Regions from separate parts of the Homo sapiens genome. Here region 1 is linked to region 2. Evidence: fine-mapped expression QTL. A gene starts in region 2. The other region holds a variant in brackets. All regions are shown on one strand. Distances are from middle to middle.

Region 1 (8,330 bases), 150 kb before region 2:
GAGCTGGAGATAGCAGTGAAGTCTGGGGAGGCTTTGCAAAATTGCCAAGGGCCCTGTAGTCAAGGCAAGGTAAGCATGGGTATTGAAGGCCAGGTTTCCTGCATGGCCTACCCTGGGTGGGAGTCTCCCAGAAGGACGTCCTTCCCTGTCTACATCAGTGTTTCTGGTGAAGCATAAAGGCTTGGCTCAGTCATTTACTTCATTTTATTCTCCTAATGAAGGGGTATTTTTATGAAACAGCCATGATGAGTAATTTACAATGCATGAATATGAATGAGAAACATTTATTATGCCAGAGAAATGAAGTTTATTGGGAAGTAAATGAAGTCTCCTCCTTGCATTCCAGAGAATGCCAAAGAAAAAAGGAAAACAGGAAATGCAGTAGTACGTTCAGGAAACACCTTAAGTAGTAACTGGAGCTCAGATTACAGGGAGCTGAACATCTTTAGAAACAAACAGGCTCGACCCTCAACAGGAAGGAGTTGTCCAGACATTGGAAGTTGATGATGTGTGTCTTTGCTTGGGTCAGGAAAGCTTTTCAGCATTCTAGAAATAACATAGAGGCAAGATGAGGTTTCTTGATGTCAGCTGAGCTCCAGAAAAGTCAGGACTTGAGGATCCTTCCTGTGGTTGATCTAAATGGCTTTGTAGATGTCTTCAAAGAGGATACAAGCTTTTCAATTACAGCAACCCTTTTGAGAGGTGCCACAGGGTCCACAGGAGTTGCCACTAGCATTGGTGGTGGCGCATGGGTTGCAGGGGAGCCTAGGAGGACAAGGAGGTTTAGAATGGCTTTAGGAGGAGGTTTTAATGCACACAATACCTTGGGCTTAATGACACAACCTATGAATTCTCAGTGGCTGGAGTTAGTTGGAATCAAGTTCTTTTTGTTTTGTTTTGTTTTGTTTTTGAGACAGGGTCTTGCTCTGTTGCCTAGGCTGGAGTGCAGTGGTGCGATCTTGGCTCACTGCAAGTGGGAGCCAAGGCTCACTATGCCTCCCAGGTTCAAGCGATTCTCCTGCCTCAGCCTCCCAAGTAGTTAGGATCACAGGCATGCGTCACCATGCCTGGCTAATTTTTTGTATTTTTGGTAGCGATGGGGTTTCACCATGTTGGCCAGGCTGGTCTTGAACTCCTGACCTCAAGTGATCCACCCACCTCAACCTCCCAAAGTGGATTATAGGCATGAGCCATTGCACCCAGCCAGAATCAAGTTCTGATTACTACCAAACCCTTCTCTCTCTCCCAGAATGCCATGTGCAGAGGTGGAAAAATTGTGCTTTTCAAAAATATTATCTCATACTCTTGAGGTCTCCTGGAACTTAATGTGCCTTACACAAATGTTATTCCTACAACTGGCCAGCTCCTGCCACCACTCCTCCATTGTTAGCCCCCTGAGATAGGGGCTGTTCCCTTACCTTTGGCCTCCCTTTGCTTAGCTATCACAGATCACTGGACACATGCTACACAGTTAATGTGTGTTGCCTGACTAGTTGAAAACATGGCCACCATTTGTGTGCCTACAATATCCCACTGTACACATTCTTCCCAGACATTATTTGCCCCATACTCACTTGCAGTCCTCACTCTCCAGGAGGCTCCGGTACGTGTTGATCTCACACTCCAGCCGGGCACGCACGTCCAGCAGCACCTGGTACTCCTGGTTCTGCCGCTCCAGGTCACAGCGGATCTCTGCCAGCTGAGACTCCACGTTGGTGATCAGGCTCTGCACCTGGGACAGCTGGGAGCTGTAGTGGGCCTCGCTCTCCGTCAGCGTGTTTTCCAGAGAGTCTCGCTGTGGTGGGGAAGATCAGGAATGTCAGAGAGCTGCTCCTTCAAAGGGTTTCTTCACAGGATTACAAGGAAGTCACAAGCTCCAAGAGCTAAGGAGAGTGTGTGGCCCCAAGCACATCCCCGGGACTCTGCCTCCCAAGTTCCCATCGCTCACCAGCAGGTCTGAACAATACACACCAGGTTGTGCTGGGCCTGCAGCTCGATCTCCAGGGCGTTGACTGTGCGTCTCAGCTCGATGATCTCCGCCTGGCAGGACTGCAGCTGCTCTGAGCTGGATACCACCTGCTTGTTCAGCTCCTCGGTCTGAAACACCCAAGTGGGGAAAGGATCAGACCCTGTCTCCAGGGCCCTGGGGCACCTCGGGTCCTGAGTGGCCATGTGCTTAGATGCCCACCTGCGTGGCGAACCATTGCTCCACTTCCCTGCGGTTAATTTCCACCAGAGCCTCATACTGACTCCTGGTCTCGTTCAGGACCTGGTTCAGGTCCACAGTGGGGGCAGTGTCCACCTCCACGTTGAGGCGGTCTCCAAGCTGGGAGCGCAGGGTGTTAACCTCCTGTTGGAGAAAAGGGAAACAATGAACCTACGGCAATGGATCTGCCATTTTCCTGCTCCAGGGAAATGAGCACAATACTGCCCAAAAAGCACTAAAAGGAATATTCTGATCATTCCCAAAGAGTGACACACACATTTTATAGCAATAAACTCCAACAGGGATCACATCAATTGCTGTCCCATGGAAGATGTGCCATCTTCCTGCTCTGGGAAAATGAGCTTGATGCTGCCCAGAAAGCACTAAAAGGGGCCGGGCACAGTGGCTCAAGCCTGTAATCCCAGCACTTTGGGAGGCAGAGGCAGGTGGATCACGAAGTCAGGAGATCGAAACCATCCTAGCCAACATGGTGAAACCCCATCTCTACTAACAATACAAAAATTAGCTGGGCGTGGTGGCATGTGCCTGTAATCCCAGCTACTCAGGAGGCTGAGGCAAGTGAATCACTTGAACCAGGGAGTCGGATGTTACAGTGAGCCTAGATCACGCCACTGCACTCCAGCCTGGTGACAGAGCATGACTCCGTCAAAAAAAAAAAAGCACTAAAAGGAAGATTCTGATCATTCCCAAAGAGTGACACACACATTTTATAGCAATAAACTCCAACAGGGATCACGTCAATTGTTGTCCCATAGAAACGGAAACAACCTCACACCTTCTACAAGACTAAGTCTAAACTCCTTGGCATATGCAAGTCCTTCCTCGCTTCCCATCACATCTTCACTTTCATCCCTTGGAGGTACTGCATGCCCAGCCATACCCAGATACACCCTGCCCTGCCACTTCTGTGTCTTTGTTCAACCTCTTCCCTCAGACTGAAACACCCAAGTACTGGAATCCTCCTCTTTGCATCTGAGAAGAGTTCCCTATCTCCTCTTGGGCAGCCTGGATTATTTCTAGAGCATACTGCTTGTACATCTCATATGGTACTTGTTTCACTCTGTCTTGTTTATATCACTGTGTTTATATGACTGTCTTTCTATACTAGACTGTGAGCTCTTTTAAGAAAAGGGCCATGTCTTATTTCTTTTTTGTCCCTCCATCTCCACCACCAAATTCAGGACCTAGCAGTGATCAGCAGAGAGCAGGGCTCAATGAATGATGTCCCTCCTCAGTAATTCCAACACCTGCCTAACCCTCACCCAGCCGCTGAAGAATGAGCAGCTCACTCCACTCCTTGATATGGATGTAGCACCGTCACTCTCTGAGAACATCTTGAGTTCCTCAGAGAAGGGTCCCAGACCAGGGATCCAGACAGTAATCCTCTCCTGATTCCCAGTGCTAGTAGCTTAGTTCTGAGGCCTGCTTTTGTGAATTTGTTTCATACCTCCTCATGGTTCTTCTTCAAGCAGATCAGCTCCTCCCTCAGGGACTCCACCTGGGACTCCAGGTCAGACTTGCAGAGGGTCAGCTCATCCAGGATCCTGCGTATGCTGTTGATGTCCGACTCCACCAACAGCCTCAGGGACTGCTCCGTCTGGTACCTGCACGTGTCGGAGTGGGAGGATAAGTCAGGAAAGAAAACCACCTTCCCCTCTCATGTGTTGTTTGGGTAGAATTGGCCTGAATCTTCTTGAACTTACAGTTTTCTGCCTCTTCTCTTCCATATGCTTCAGTCAAGCTGTCCATGGATAGGCTGAAGAGGTTCCCTGACTCACCTAACACCACGAGGAGCCCACAGGCACACATGAGATGAAGTCTCTCACTGTGTTCTCGGTTTTGTTAGCTAATATACCACCAAATCAATTCCCAAAGAACAATTCATTTCAATCTCTGAATTTTGTGGTTTAAGAAACACTTCCAAAAAAAACCAGTATAGACCAAAGAGCAGGCAGCACATGAGTCTAGTTCCCTATTTGAAACTAATTTTACATAACCAGCCCTAGGAGGAGAAATAGAGAGAAATGGCTTTCTCCTCTCTTCCAGGCAATAGTAGGTCCCTAGGGCCATGAAAGAACCATAGGGACCTTGAAGTTCAACATACTTGCTTCTGAAGTCGTCAGAGGCCAGCTTGGCATTGTCAATGTTCACCACCAGCCTGGCATTCTCAGCCTTGGCACACAGAATCTGAAAAGAAATTTCTCTCATGAGGTACACTTGAACTTGAAAATGTCTTACTGTTCAAAGAGAGCCAGCTGCTGCTGGCCCCCCATATGGCCAACCCCCTCACCTTCTGCTGGAGCTCCTCAATGGTCTTGAAGTA[G/C]GACTGGTAGCTGGGGCACAGCAAGGGCTCCTGCTGCTGGGACCGCTCCTGGATGAGTTTCTCCAGCTCCGCGTTGTCCCGCTCCAGCTGACGCACCTTCTCCAGGTAGCTGGCCAGGCGGTCGTTCAGGAACTGCATAGTCTCCTTCTCGCTGCCATTGAAGGAGCCCTCACAGAACCAGTTGCAGTTGCTCACATTGGCGGGGATGTTGCAGGCCCCAGGCAGGGTGTAGCCGTGGCAGCTGGGGGGCACGCAGGGCCGGGAGGAGCAGCTGGTGCGGCAGCCCAGGCTGGGCAGGCAACAACTGTAAGACATGGTGCTGGAACAGGTAATGGAAAAGCAGGTAAGCTGCTGGAGGTGGATGTGGGCAGGTTTGAGTCTCTCCTTCCTCTGCAGTCCTTTTATACCATTAATTGTGGGTGGGGGCTTGGCATACAGCATAGTTTCCTTTCCTAATGCTTCAGCTAATTTTTCTCCAAAATATGCTAGTTAGATGCTTCTAAAGAGTCCCCCCTCAACCCATAAAATTATTCCATTCAGCTTATGTCACACCAGGCTCTTCCTGGGTGCTAGTGGTTGGTGAAATCAGAGTTTCATCAGATGGCTTCATAGGAGATAGAATCATCACAGCCCCAAAAGGCTGTCTGCATTACTCAGAGGGGAGGACAGCCAGGGACATGGGGTGGAGTTGTTTGGGAATCAGGGATTCCTCACCCAGGAGTTTCCGCCACTGTTCTTTCTCCCCAGAGAGAGAGCTCTGAGAGAGAGCTTTGAGAGTTACTCTTCCAAGTAGCTCTTTCCTCCCACATTCATCCATGTTTCAGCATTCAATTTGTTTTTATAGCAGAAACTCAACCTGTATTCGCCGAAATGATCCTGAGCCTTACTATTCGTTGGGGTTTAGGGAACTTGCCAACACATGGAGCAACTGAAAACAATGGCATGTTCATGGTTGAGAAATGAGAAAGTAAAATGGAAACCAATGGAATGGATGGGAGTATACCTAAAAGAGGGCATCTGCAAATGGCAGCCCACACGTCAAGTTTACCCTGCTGAATTTTTGTAAATAAAGTTTTTGTTTGTTTGTTTTCTGTTTTTTTTTTTTTGAGACAGAGTCTCACTCTGTCGCCCAGGCTGGAGTGCAGTGGCACGATCTCGGCTCACTGCAACCTCCACCTCCCGGGTTCAAGCAATTATCTGCCTCAGCCCCCCGAGTAGCTGGGATTACAGGTGCCCGCCACCACACCCGGCTAATTTTTGTGTTTTTAGCAGAAATGGGGTTTCACCATGTTGGCCAGGCTGCTCTTGAACTCCTGAACTCGTGATCCGCCCGCCTCGGCCTCCCAAAGTGCTGGGATTACAGGCGTGAGCCAATGCGTCCGGCAGTAAATAAAGTTTTAATGGAACACAGCCATGCCCATTTGTTTAGCTATTGTATATGGCTGCTTTTGTGCTACAGTGGCAGAGTTGTGTAGTTGTGACAGAGACTATAGTGTCCACAAAGCCCTAAAATTAAAAAATTTGCCAACTTGTACTAAAGCAACAGCCTCTCTAAAGATGAGCAAGAGTAGAAATATCTAGAAGAAAAAATATGCTGGAAACAGTCTGGAGCAGTGAGAGTTCAGATGGCAGCACTGAAGCATGAATATGAAGCATAATACTGCAGACTCACCAAGAAACGAAAATTGGAGCAAGGGTGCTCAGAGGTATCTTTGTATCCATGGTGGCTTTTTCTCAAATTCTCTGGAAATTTCTATCATCTTATTTCTAGACTTGTTCCTCTTTCTAGAGTATTAACTCTCCTAGAGGTATGACTATGCCAGCCTGAGATGCTTCCAGGACAAGCCACAGTGCCCATGAGAATGCAGATTTACTCTGTTGTCCCTACAAGTAGACACTGTCTCTGATAAGTGTGCTTCTATCACCTCTGGGATCCAGTTACCCTTTGACTCTTGCATAACCTAGGGAGCCTCTCTATTGCCCAATAATCACTCTTCACAGAATAGCCTTCCCTACCTCACTTCTTTTCCCTGTCACTCTACCTTGCCTTTGTTCCGCAGGGAAACAAAGTCATGTTTCAGAAAGAAGTCCCAAAAGATTATTTGTGGAACACAATACAAATCATTTAAAGAAGGCTGCATCTGAATTTCAAAAGCAGCATGAGAGGAGCAGAAAAGCACATCTTCGATTTTATTTATTTGAGTGTTTCCTCTTTTTTTCTTAGTCTATCTAGAGGTTTGTAAATTTTCTGTGTCTTTCAAAAAAACTCTGTTTCATTGATTTTTTGCTATTGTTTTTCTAGTCTCTATTTTTATTTATTTCTGCTCTAAGTTTTATCGTAAGTATCATAATAAAATTTAGAGCAAAAAGTGTTATTATATCCTTCCTGCTGCTAACTTTGAGCTTAGTTTGTTCTTTATCTTTTTTAATTTTTTAATTTTTGTAGGTACATGGTAGGCGTGTGTGTATGTTTAGATATAGGTTTATGTATATACATATATAAAACTTTCCTCTTAGTACTGCTTTTGCTGCATCCCATAAATTTTGATACGTTGTGTTCTCATTTTCATTTGTCTCAAGATATTTTCTAATTTCCTTTTTGATTTCTTCTTTGACCCATTGATTATTTAAATGTTTTTTAATTTCTACATATTTGTGTATTTTTCAGTTTTTTTCTTATTTCCGTTCTAGTTTTCTAGTTTCATTCCATTGTGGTAGGAAAAGATACTTAGTATGATTTCAATCCTCTTAAATTCGTTAAGACTTGTTTTGTGACCCAACATATGATCTATCCTGGACAATGTTCCGCATGCACTGGAGAATATGCATTCTGCTACCATTGGATAGAACGTGTTATTTGTTAGGTCCATTTGTTCTATAGTATTGCTCAAATCTGTTGTTTCCTTGTTGATTTTCTATCTGAATGTTCTATTCATTATCAAAAGTGAGTTACTGAATTCTTCTATTATTGCATTGTCCATTTCTCCCTTTGGTTCTGTCAATGTTTGTTATATATATATTAGGTGCTCTGATGTTGGGTTCATATATGTGTGCAATTGTTATATCTTCCTGGTGAATTTTTTCATTATTATATAATGTTCTTCTTTGCCTTTTGTGACAATTTTTGACTTAAAGACTATTTTGTCTGATATATAAGTACAGCCATCCTGCTGTCTTTTGGTTACCATTTGTACGGAATATTTTTTTTCCCATTCCTTCACTTTCAGCCTATACATTGTCTTTAAATCTAAAGTCAGTCTCTTCTAGATAGTATGTAGATAGTACTTGTTGGTTTTTTGAAAATCCATTCAGCTACTCCATGTCTTTTGATTGGAGAGTTTAATTCATTTACATTTCAATAAATTATTGATAGGGAAAGACTAATATTGCCATTTTGTTAATTCTTTTGTCTTTCTCAGAGTTCTTTTGTCTCTCTTTTCCTATCTTGCTGTCTTCCTTTGTGTTGCATGGATTTTTGTATCGATATGTTTTTATTCTTTTTTCTTTTTCTTTTGTGTATCTTCTATAGGTATTTTTTTGTGATCATCATAGGGCTTATATGAAACAACTTATAACTGTCTGTTTTCAGCTGATAACTTTCACTGCATACAAAAACTACTCTTTTGCTTCTCCCACACACATCTTTTATGTATTGATGTCATTATTTACATCTTGTTATATTGCATATGCATTAACCTATTTTTATAGTTATAGTTATTTTTAATACTTTTATCTTTTAAATTTTATAGTAGAGGGCCAAGTGTGGTGGCTCACACCTAT
Region 2 (8,283 bases):
TCCTTCCGGTTCTGCTCGGCCATGACCTCATATTGGCTTCGCATGTCACTCAGGATCTTGGCGAGATCGGTGCCCGGAGCGGAATCCACCTCCACACTGACCTGGCCTCCCACTTGGCCCCTCAGCGTACTGATTTCCTGTAAAGATACAGCAGAGATGGGCATGTCAGGGCCCAGACCCCACTGGGCCTGGCCCAGGTCACTTCCCCACCCTTCAGGCTAAAGGGGCTTAGTTTTCAGGTGCAGGCCTAGTAACTAGCACTGGGGGACAGACTGGGTCATCACTGATTCCTCTTGGAACCCTGGGATCCATGATCCCACACCCAGGGCCATGGTGAGGGTGCACCAAGTGTTACCACGGTCAGAGAATACAGAATAAAAGAGTCTTCAGCCCTGGGAGGTTAGGGAAGGATGGAAGAAAGGCCCAGCTTCAAACCCACCTCCTCATGGTTCTTCTTCAGGTAGGCCAGCTCTTCCTTCAGGCCTTCGATCTGCATCTCCAGGTCGGTCCTGGCCAGGGTCAGCTCATCCAGCACCCTGCGCAGGCCGTTGATGTCGGCCTCCACGCTCATGCGCAGAGCCTGTTCCGTCTCAAACCTTTCAAAGGAAATAGTTGCAGCCAGGCAGAGCTTCCTCAGCATCTCTGAAGACTTCCCTACCTCCCCAGAGTTCAGGAGTCCATAGGGGGGTTAGCTTCAGGCCATCTAGGCTAGGTGAGGGCAGATTCTAAACCCCCCAACCCCTACCCCAGTCCTGGCTTCTGCAGCCCCCAGGACAGAGACACTCACTTGGTTCGGAAGTCATCTGCAGCCAGACGGGCATTGTCGATCTGCAGGACAATCCTGGAGTTCTCAATGGTGGCACCAAGAATCTGGAAGGCAGAGGCAGAGGTTGGTACCAGTTCAACACACAGGCACTGCCCACTCACTTTCTTCCCAGAAGAGAGAGGGGAGCAAATGAATATACCCCGGCACCCTAGAGACCAAAGCCCTAGCCAGCATCTGCCGCCCATTGGCCCGCTCTCTGGGAGGCCTTGCAAACAGTCCATGCCCAGAAGCTGGGGCAGGAAGAAAACTGGAGCCAGGGGGACTTGGGTGGGGGAGGGCAGGAAGGCAAGCCTGGGGAGGAAATCTCTGAGACCTGTGTGCAATGAAACTCTAAATGGCCTGAAGGGGGTCTATAAACCAGATGGGGGGTAGATTTTGTCTATACCTGCCCCCCCCACTATGCGAAGCATATTTTGCCCCCAGGGAAGAGAATCCCATTTGTTGAGTATCAATTATGTGCCAGGCACTTTGAATCTCATCTTTTATAGCTTCTGGAACCTCACTGCTAGGTCAGTGGGTACTCCTATCTTACAGAGGTGGAAACTAAAGTTTAGGATGATGCCTCATCCAAGTTCACCCCAACCTGAGGTCTTACTGACCTAAGAGGCGCATTCACAACAGCCAGCTTATCATTGAATAAGGTAATTGTGTTCTGTTTTTCAAAGAGCAGGTCATCACTCATTAGTCAAGGCACCAGGTGGTGATTGTATAGTTTTGTGTTTTGGGGGGGTTTTTTGGTTTTGTTTTTTGGGGTTTTTTTGAGACAGAGTCTCGCTCTGTCACCCAGGCTGGAGTGCAGCGTCGCGATCTCGGCTCACTGCAAGCCCCGCCTCCCGGGTTCACGCCATTCTCCTGCCTCAGCCTCCTGAGTAGCTGGGACTACAGGCGCCCTCCACCACGCCCAGCTAATTTTTTTTTGTATTTTTAGTAGAGACGGGGTTTCACCGTGTTAGCCAGGATGGTCTGGATCTCCTGACCTCGTGATCCGCCCGCCTCCGCCTCCCAAAGTGCTGGGATTACAGGCATGAGCCACCGCGCCCGGCCGATTGTGTAGTTTTTTAATGCAACAGAATAGGCTACAAAATATCAGAGGGGATTTCTCTTAGTATGGTGAGAATTGTGTCACCCATTTGTGTGTGTGCATGTGCACGCACACACACACACAGAGGTGAGAAAAAGAATGCGTAAGGGTGCGTAGTAAAATGTACTTATTGTCGCAATTTTTTTTTTTTTTTGATACAGGGTCTCGCTGTGTTGCCCCAGGCTGGAGTGCAGTGGCACTGATCACGTACAGCTCGCTGCAAGGCACACGCCACCATGCCAAGCTAATTCCTTTTTTTTTTTTTTTTTTTTTTTTTTTGAGACGGACTCTCGCTCTGTGGCCGAGACTGAAGTGCAATGGCGCAATCTCGGCTCACTGCAGCCTCCGCCTCTTGGGTTCCAGCAATTCTCCTGCCTCAGCCTCCCAGGTAGCTGGGATTACAGGCATGCACCACCACGCCCAGCTAATTTTTGTATTTTTAGTAGAGACAGGATTTTACCATGTTTGCCAGGCTGATCTCGAACTCCTGGGGCTCAAGCAATCCTCCCACCTTGGCCACCCAAAGTGCTGGGGTTACAGGCGTGAGCCACAGTGCCCAGCCCCTGTAGGTCACAATTTTACAAGTGTGTAAAGCACTGTTTTTGTTGGCTGTTGACATCTCTAGCGCTTCCTCCTGGTCTGTGGGTCTGGGTCTATGCCACGAGTACAGCACTGGAAAATATTTTGGGGATCTGTTTGTTGGGAGACCCAGCGTGTGCGGCTGTAAATGTTCCATGGCTTCTGATACATTTCTTTACGACTCGAAAAATTTCTCCTTCCCTCTGGGTGGAGACCAAGCCCTACCCCTCAGGCCCCTTAGGGTTCCCCTGTAAGAGCGTGTGACGCAGATCCGTTCTTTCCCCGACAAGGAGCTGCCACTGTACTGGGTCCTCCCCAGCAGAGGTTTACCAAGCCTCCCTCCTTTACCCCGCCCAGGGGCCACGACCGGCTCTCCCATTCTTCCTAAACGAATGGGCCCCAGGGCGGGAGAGTGGGAGGAGGCCAAAGCCTGAGAGGGATGAACACTAGACCCTTCCGGCCAGAGAAACGGAATGCAGGAGGCCCTACGCTGCGGTGGCAGAGGGGGCAAGACTGGCCCCGGGTGGACCAGATCACCAAAGCCAAACTCTCGCATCTTCCTGCGGCAGCGCGGCCCCTGGCCTAGACCTCTGGGCACTCTACAGCCGGGTCCCATCTCCTCCCACTCTTCAGGCCTCGCTGACCCGCGTCCCTTCTTCGTCCCGGGGCTCCAACCTTGCCCCCGCCACCTCCAGAGGCCCCACCCACTTATCTGCCCTGCCCAGTTCTCCTCCCCTTTCCACCACCCCGGCCTCTGCATCCAGCCCCGAGGTCCTGCCCCGCACGTCTCCTGTCCCCCTTTACTCGGCCCCACCTGTGGACCTTCCCACGTCCTAACGGGCTCCTGCCCGCCGCCCCGCCTGGAACCTCGCCCGGCCCGCGGGGCTGGGTTTCCGCGGCAGGTGCACTGCACTTCCCGCGGCCGGGCCTCCGCCCACCTTGTCCCGCAGGTCCTGGATGGTCGTGTAGTAGTGGCTGTAGTCGCGGGAGGGCCCAGGCCCCTGCTTCTGGTACCAGTCGCGGATCTTCACCTCTAGCTCGCCGTTGGCCGCCTCCAGGGCGCGCACCTTGTCCAGGTAGGAGGCCAGGCGGTCGTTGAGGTTCTGCATGGTTAGCTTCTCGTTGCCCGCCAGCAGCCCGTCGGACGCGGTCAGGACGCCGCCGTAGCCGCCGCCGTAGGCCCCCGAGGAGGACGAGGACACAAAGCGGGCGGAGGACACGGATACGCCGCGGCCGCCGGAGCCCCCGTGAATGCTGGGCGCGCGAAAGGCGACCCCCGGCCCAAAACGCACGGAGCCGCCGCCCAGGCCTCCGAAGGACGACGTGGCCGACGACTGGCGATAGCTGTAGGAAGTCATGGCGAGGCGGAGCACGGACGGAGCAACCCTGGTCTCAGAAGCTGCGATTCGCGGGAGGAGCGGCGAGGCCCTCACCTGGCGCCTTTTATGCCCGCGGCCGGTGGAGGGGGGAAGGGAGGAATGGTGTCAGGGGCGGATATCTGAGCCCTGAGGAATTTGCAGGCTCCTGAGAGCAAATATGGGCTCTCTCCCCATTGGTCAATTCCCTCCCCTCCCAGAGACCAGAGGCCCCTGCCCTCCAGAGGTGCCCCGCCCCGGTCCGCGCAGAAGCTCCGACCCGCACTCCCCCACTCTCTCTCTGCAGACCCTGTTCTGGCCTTTCCCCCGTCAGGGACATACCTGGACACCCCTGTCCCTGGAAGCCACATTCTGAGCCTCACCCTTTAAGATCACCCAGAGTTTGACACCACTGGGAATTACAGTCCCTCTGGGGTCATATTCCTACACACCCCTGACCCAGTGATTTTGTTTTTGTTTTTTTGGAGACGAGTCTCTGTCGCCCAGACTGGAGTGCAGTGGTGTGATCTCGGCCCACTGCAGCCTCCATCTCCCGGGTTCAAGCGATTCTCCTGCCTCAGCCTCCGGAGTAGCTGGGATTACAGGCACGCGCCACCACGCCCAGCTAATTTTTGTATTTTTAGTAGAGACAGGGTTTCACCATGTTGACCAGGCTGGTCTCAAACTCCTGACCTCAAGTGATCCACCCGCCTGGGCCGCCCAAAGTGCTGGGATTACAGGCGTGAGCCCCTGCGCCCAGCCCCAGTGATTAACCATTCAGAGTGCTCCCTGTTAAGAGCCCCTTGCTTGCGATCCTAACCAGCCCGCCCCCCACAAAGTGCATTCACAGATTCCTGCCCTCCACTGGAGATTACAGCCTCTCAGAACCAGCTTCTTGGGAACACCCATGCCCAACTCCCCTTTTGTCCCCTCTGACAAAGGCACCAGTTCCGGATCAGGGCACATCCGGGCATTTTGAGCTGCACGAACCCAGCCCTCTCAAGACAAAGCTGCCTCACCCTGCTGTCGCCATTCAGTGCCCCAGGTGACAACAGTCTCCTGAGAACAGCTGCAGGGAGCGGTTCTGGCAGCTGACACCTTTCCAACACTAAGCTCCAGCCTGATCCTCACTCTGGAACCCTCAAAGCCCACTCGTCCCTGGCCACCAGGATGATCCCCTCCCTTCCATCCCCCAAAGCATGCGTTCATTCAACCACAGGAGTATTGGGCTGCTTTAATATTTCCAAAATGAGGAAGCAGAGCCTGGGAGAGGCCAGTAACTTGCCCATGAGGCATTTAGCATCTGCCACTGAAAGGCAAACATAGGATGAATCCCTGCCCTCCTTGTCAGAGGGCTGCTGAATGCATGTCCTCATCCTTGTATAAAGATGAGTGCTTGAATGAGCTGGGCAGAGCGACACAAAGTGCCCGGCACAAGGTAAAGGTTTTGACAATAGAGGCAGGGCCTTCCTCCCCACACAGCCCCACCCCTTGCTCTGTTCAACAATTCCACCCACCGTTTTGGATCTCTTTGGAGGGCCATGCCCCCTGCCAGGCACTACAGGGCGCTGCAACAACCTCACCCCAGTTCCTGTCCCCAGTGACCCCCGTCCCCAGAACTGTCCCCATGGTTCCTTCTTGTCCTTATGGCAAAGCATTCACCCAGGCTTGGAACAGAGGCCCTCCTGAGAAGGTATTAAGGGAGACAGGCCAGTCCCTGCCCATCTCTGGGTCTCAGTTTTCCCTCATGAAAAGAGGGGTGGCCCAGCTCAGCCCTCTTCTCTGTGTATTATCACCTGGGTCACCTGTGACTGGTGGAGACTTGTCTCCAGCCTCGGAAACCTAAGTTCCCAGCAAACTACCTGTTAGCTGCCAACTCATCCTTGAACTGGGGCAGGAAACCCCGTAAATACACACCCCTAACCCACCAGGAACCGCTCTGAGCCCTCAGGAAGGCCAGTCTGAGGCTGTTTAACTAGTGAATCAGTTGCAGAAAGACTGAAGGTCTTTGGAGAGCCCAAGAGGGAGAAAGGGGAGTCCAAGACCAGCCATAAAAGCCAGCACCCTGTGACTGGTCAGCTCTGAGTCATTCCCTTATCAGGCACTGATGAGGAGGCCTGCTCCTTGTTAGCGGGAAGGGAGATTGGCCAGATAGTTGCCATGCACACAAAGCCCCAATAGGCAGCTCTGTTTTTCTGGCCTGATAGGGGGGTCTGGGGAGGGACTTTGTATTAAAGGGCAAAGAATAGAATCAACAGTTCCATTCGTAAGATTAAGGTGTTCTGAGCTCCCTAACCTTCAGAGGCACTTGGAGTCCCAGCCCCCTACTCTAAGACCATAAACAGAAGGACAGTTGACTACAGGGTAGCACAGTTTAGAGCCTTTTCAGATCTCACTGGATCCTCACAGCAGCCCAGTGGAAAAGGTATTCTTATCTCCATTTTACAGATAAGGAAACAGAGGCTTGGTGAGAGGCAGTAATTTGCCAAAGGTCCACCGCTAGGAGTATCAGATTCTGGCCTCCAGCTTCTTGACCATCAGCCAAGAGTAACGGAGGCCCTGCTCTCCCTTCCAAGGAAGTCTCGGCCCCCAAAACAACTCCTTTGGGTGCCTTCCCTCAAAATCTTATCATGCCAGTGCCAAGGGCAGTCAACCCCAGACTGAACTGTTGGCTGGGCTAGGGAGAATACCTTGTTCCCTCTCTCTGGCCAGAAACAGTGCCTGGCCATGAGGTATGTGGCCTTTGGCACTTTCTGATTCATCAAGGACTCAGGAGAACAGTCTGTAGAGGCTGCCCTACCCAGAGATGGAACTGGAGGTCAAGCTGCTGCTCCCATTTAGGAAACAGTGCTCACAACCAGGAGGCTCCCATCAGCCTCTGGCTTCAGGAGGGCAGAACCTGGTCAGAGGAGCATCCATCCAATGTTCATGTCTCCAGTCTCAGGTCTGGGGTCTGCAGAAGAGGGGTACAGAGGGTCAGAAGTGATGGGTATGGAATGGTGAGCTCAAAGGAATCCCAGGGAGGATCCTGCCCAGCCTTCCCCAACTGGATTCTACAGAACCCCAGCACTATGAGATCCCTGCAGGAAAAAAGATCCCTGTCAAATAAGATCGGAAACTCTGCTCTCTCTGACTCTCTTTTGGAGTTTCACAAGGCACAGTACCAGAAGCCCTGGAAACCTCATTTCCTCATTTGTAAAATAGAGATGATGATGATGAGGAGGAGGAGGAGGATACCTATTTCAGAGGGTTGCTTCAAGTGATAAATGTAATGGTGCTTGTAAAAGGTTTATCACACCTGGCAAATAGCACTCAAACAGCATTATTATTATTATTATATAATGTTATTTTTATATAGTATTTGTTACTATAATTTTGGCTACAAGTGTTATTATTTAACTTTCTTTAACCAGTATTTCCCAAGTGCACTGGACCATGGAATCTTTAAATATCTATTAATAACCCATGAATTACAGAAAAAGCCAGTCCAGCCCCAGGATGCTCAGAAAGGTAAAGTGACTTTCCTGGGGTCGCATGATGATTCAACCGACTGAACTGAGGCAGATCTGGGATTCATTTCTAACTCCTAACACTGAGGCTGAGGCCCCCTCTGCCTCTCCACTTGGACATACACATGAAGCTTCTTATCCTTCAGCAGATGCAGGTGGTTCCCAGAGTGGAGAGGTTAAAGGTAGGGGGGTTTTCATCATCCCAGGAGAAATGGGATAGTCATTGGAGACCACAGGAAAGAAGCTGGGGGTGAGAGACCTAGTCCTTGGATAGAATGGAATGGTGTGATAATGACAACAAGAATAATGATGACCAAGGTGATAATAATACAGTAGATAATCATAGCCAACATCTACTGGGCCAGGCTCCATGCTAAACACTCTGAATATATTATCTCAATGAATCATGTTAATTAAGTATTATTGTCCCCATTTAACAGTCAAGAAAATTGAGGCTCAAAACGGTTAATATCTTGTCCAAGGTCACACAAGTAAGTAGTGGACTGGGTATTTGGGCCAAAATCTTTCACTCCCTCAAGCCACAGTCCCAATTGCTAATGCTGCCCTCCTCTCATGGGAAAGGGATCAAGGTGCCTTCTTCTGCTGCCCTGGAGAAAGAGCCACCAAGTTGGGGAAGGCATTGTATCATCTGCCAAGATCCCAACTTGCCCTGCCTGCTCTGATGCACAATTATTTGTTTGGTCAGTCAGTGGGCCATTCAAGCAAGTTTCCTCCAAGTTGAGCCTAGCAGAGGAGACAGACTCGTGTCCATGAGCAAAGCAGAAGGCTCTGTTCATAATCTGGAGGAGAGGAAAGGTAAATGTGTGGAAAACTTCATGAGCTTGCATGTCCTGTCAATTAGTAGCTCCTTACCTGAACGGCCTCCGCTTCCCCAGGGACCACCAGCACAAGGAACTTCCTCACCCGCTCCTC

Direction of the effects. Positions count from the first base shown, and alleles are read on the strand shown. Sizes are in standard deviations (SD) of each study's normalised expression.
With allele C in place of G in region 1, the expression in fibroblasts of the gene that starts at base 3,905 in region 2 is higher (large effect, 1.2 SD a copy in GTEx).

Evidence for each region. PIP is the estimated chance that this variant, and not a neighbour inherited with it, causes the effect.
Region 1: its variant is fine-mapped to the expression of KRT19 in fibroblasts (GTEx, PIP above 0.99).

The regions. Positions count from the first base shown.
Region 1 is chr17:41,377,382-41,385,711 of GRCh38, forward strand. It overlaps KRT34 (keratin 34), which reads right to left and starts at 4,925. Exons shown (of 7, transcript NM_001386014.1): 1 at 4,518-4,925; 2 at 4,332-4,414; 3 at 3,675-3,831; 4 at 2,189-2,350; 5 at 1,972-2,097; 6 at 1,575-1,795; 7 at 288-765. The coding sequence starts at 4,865. The coding sequence ends at 678. RefSeq lists an enhancer at 3,918-5,117. The variant G/C (reference allele first, on the strand shown) is at 4,551.
Region 2 is chr17:41,524,404-41,532,686 of GRCh38, forward strand. KRT19 (keratin 19) reads right to left here and starts at 3,905. Exons shown (of 6, transcript NM_002276.5): 1 at 3,425-3,905; 2 at 788-870; 3 at 440-596; 4 at 1-137. The coding sequence starts at 3,844. RefSeq lists enhancers at 3,102-3,801, 3,802-4,499, 4,500-5,197, 5,198-5,895 and a cis regulatory region at 5,601-6,453.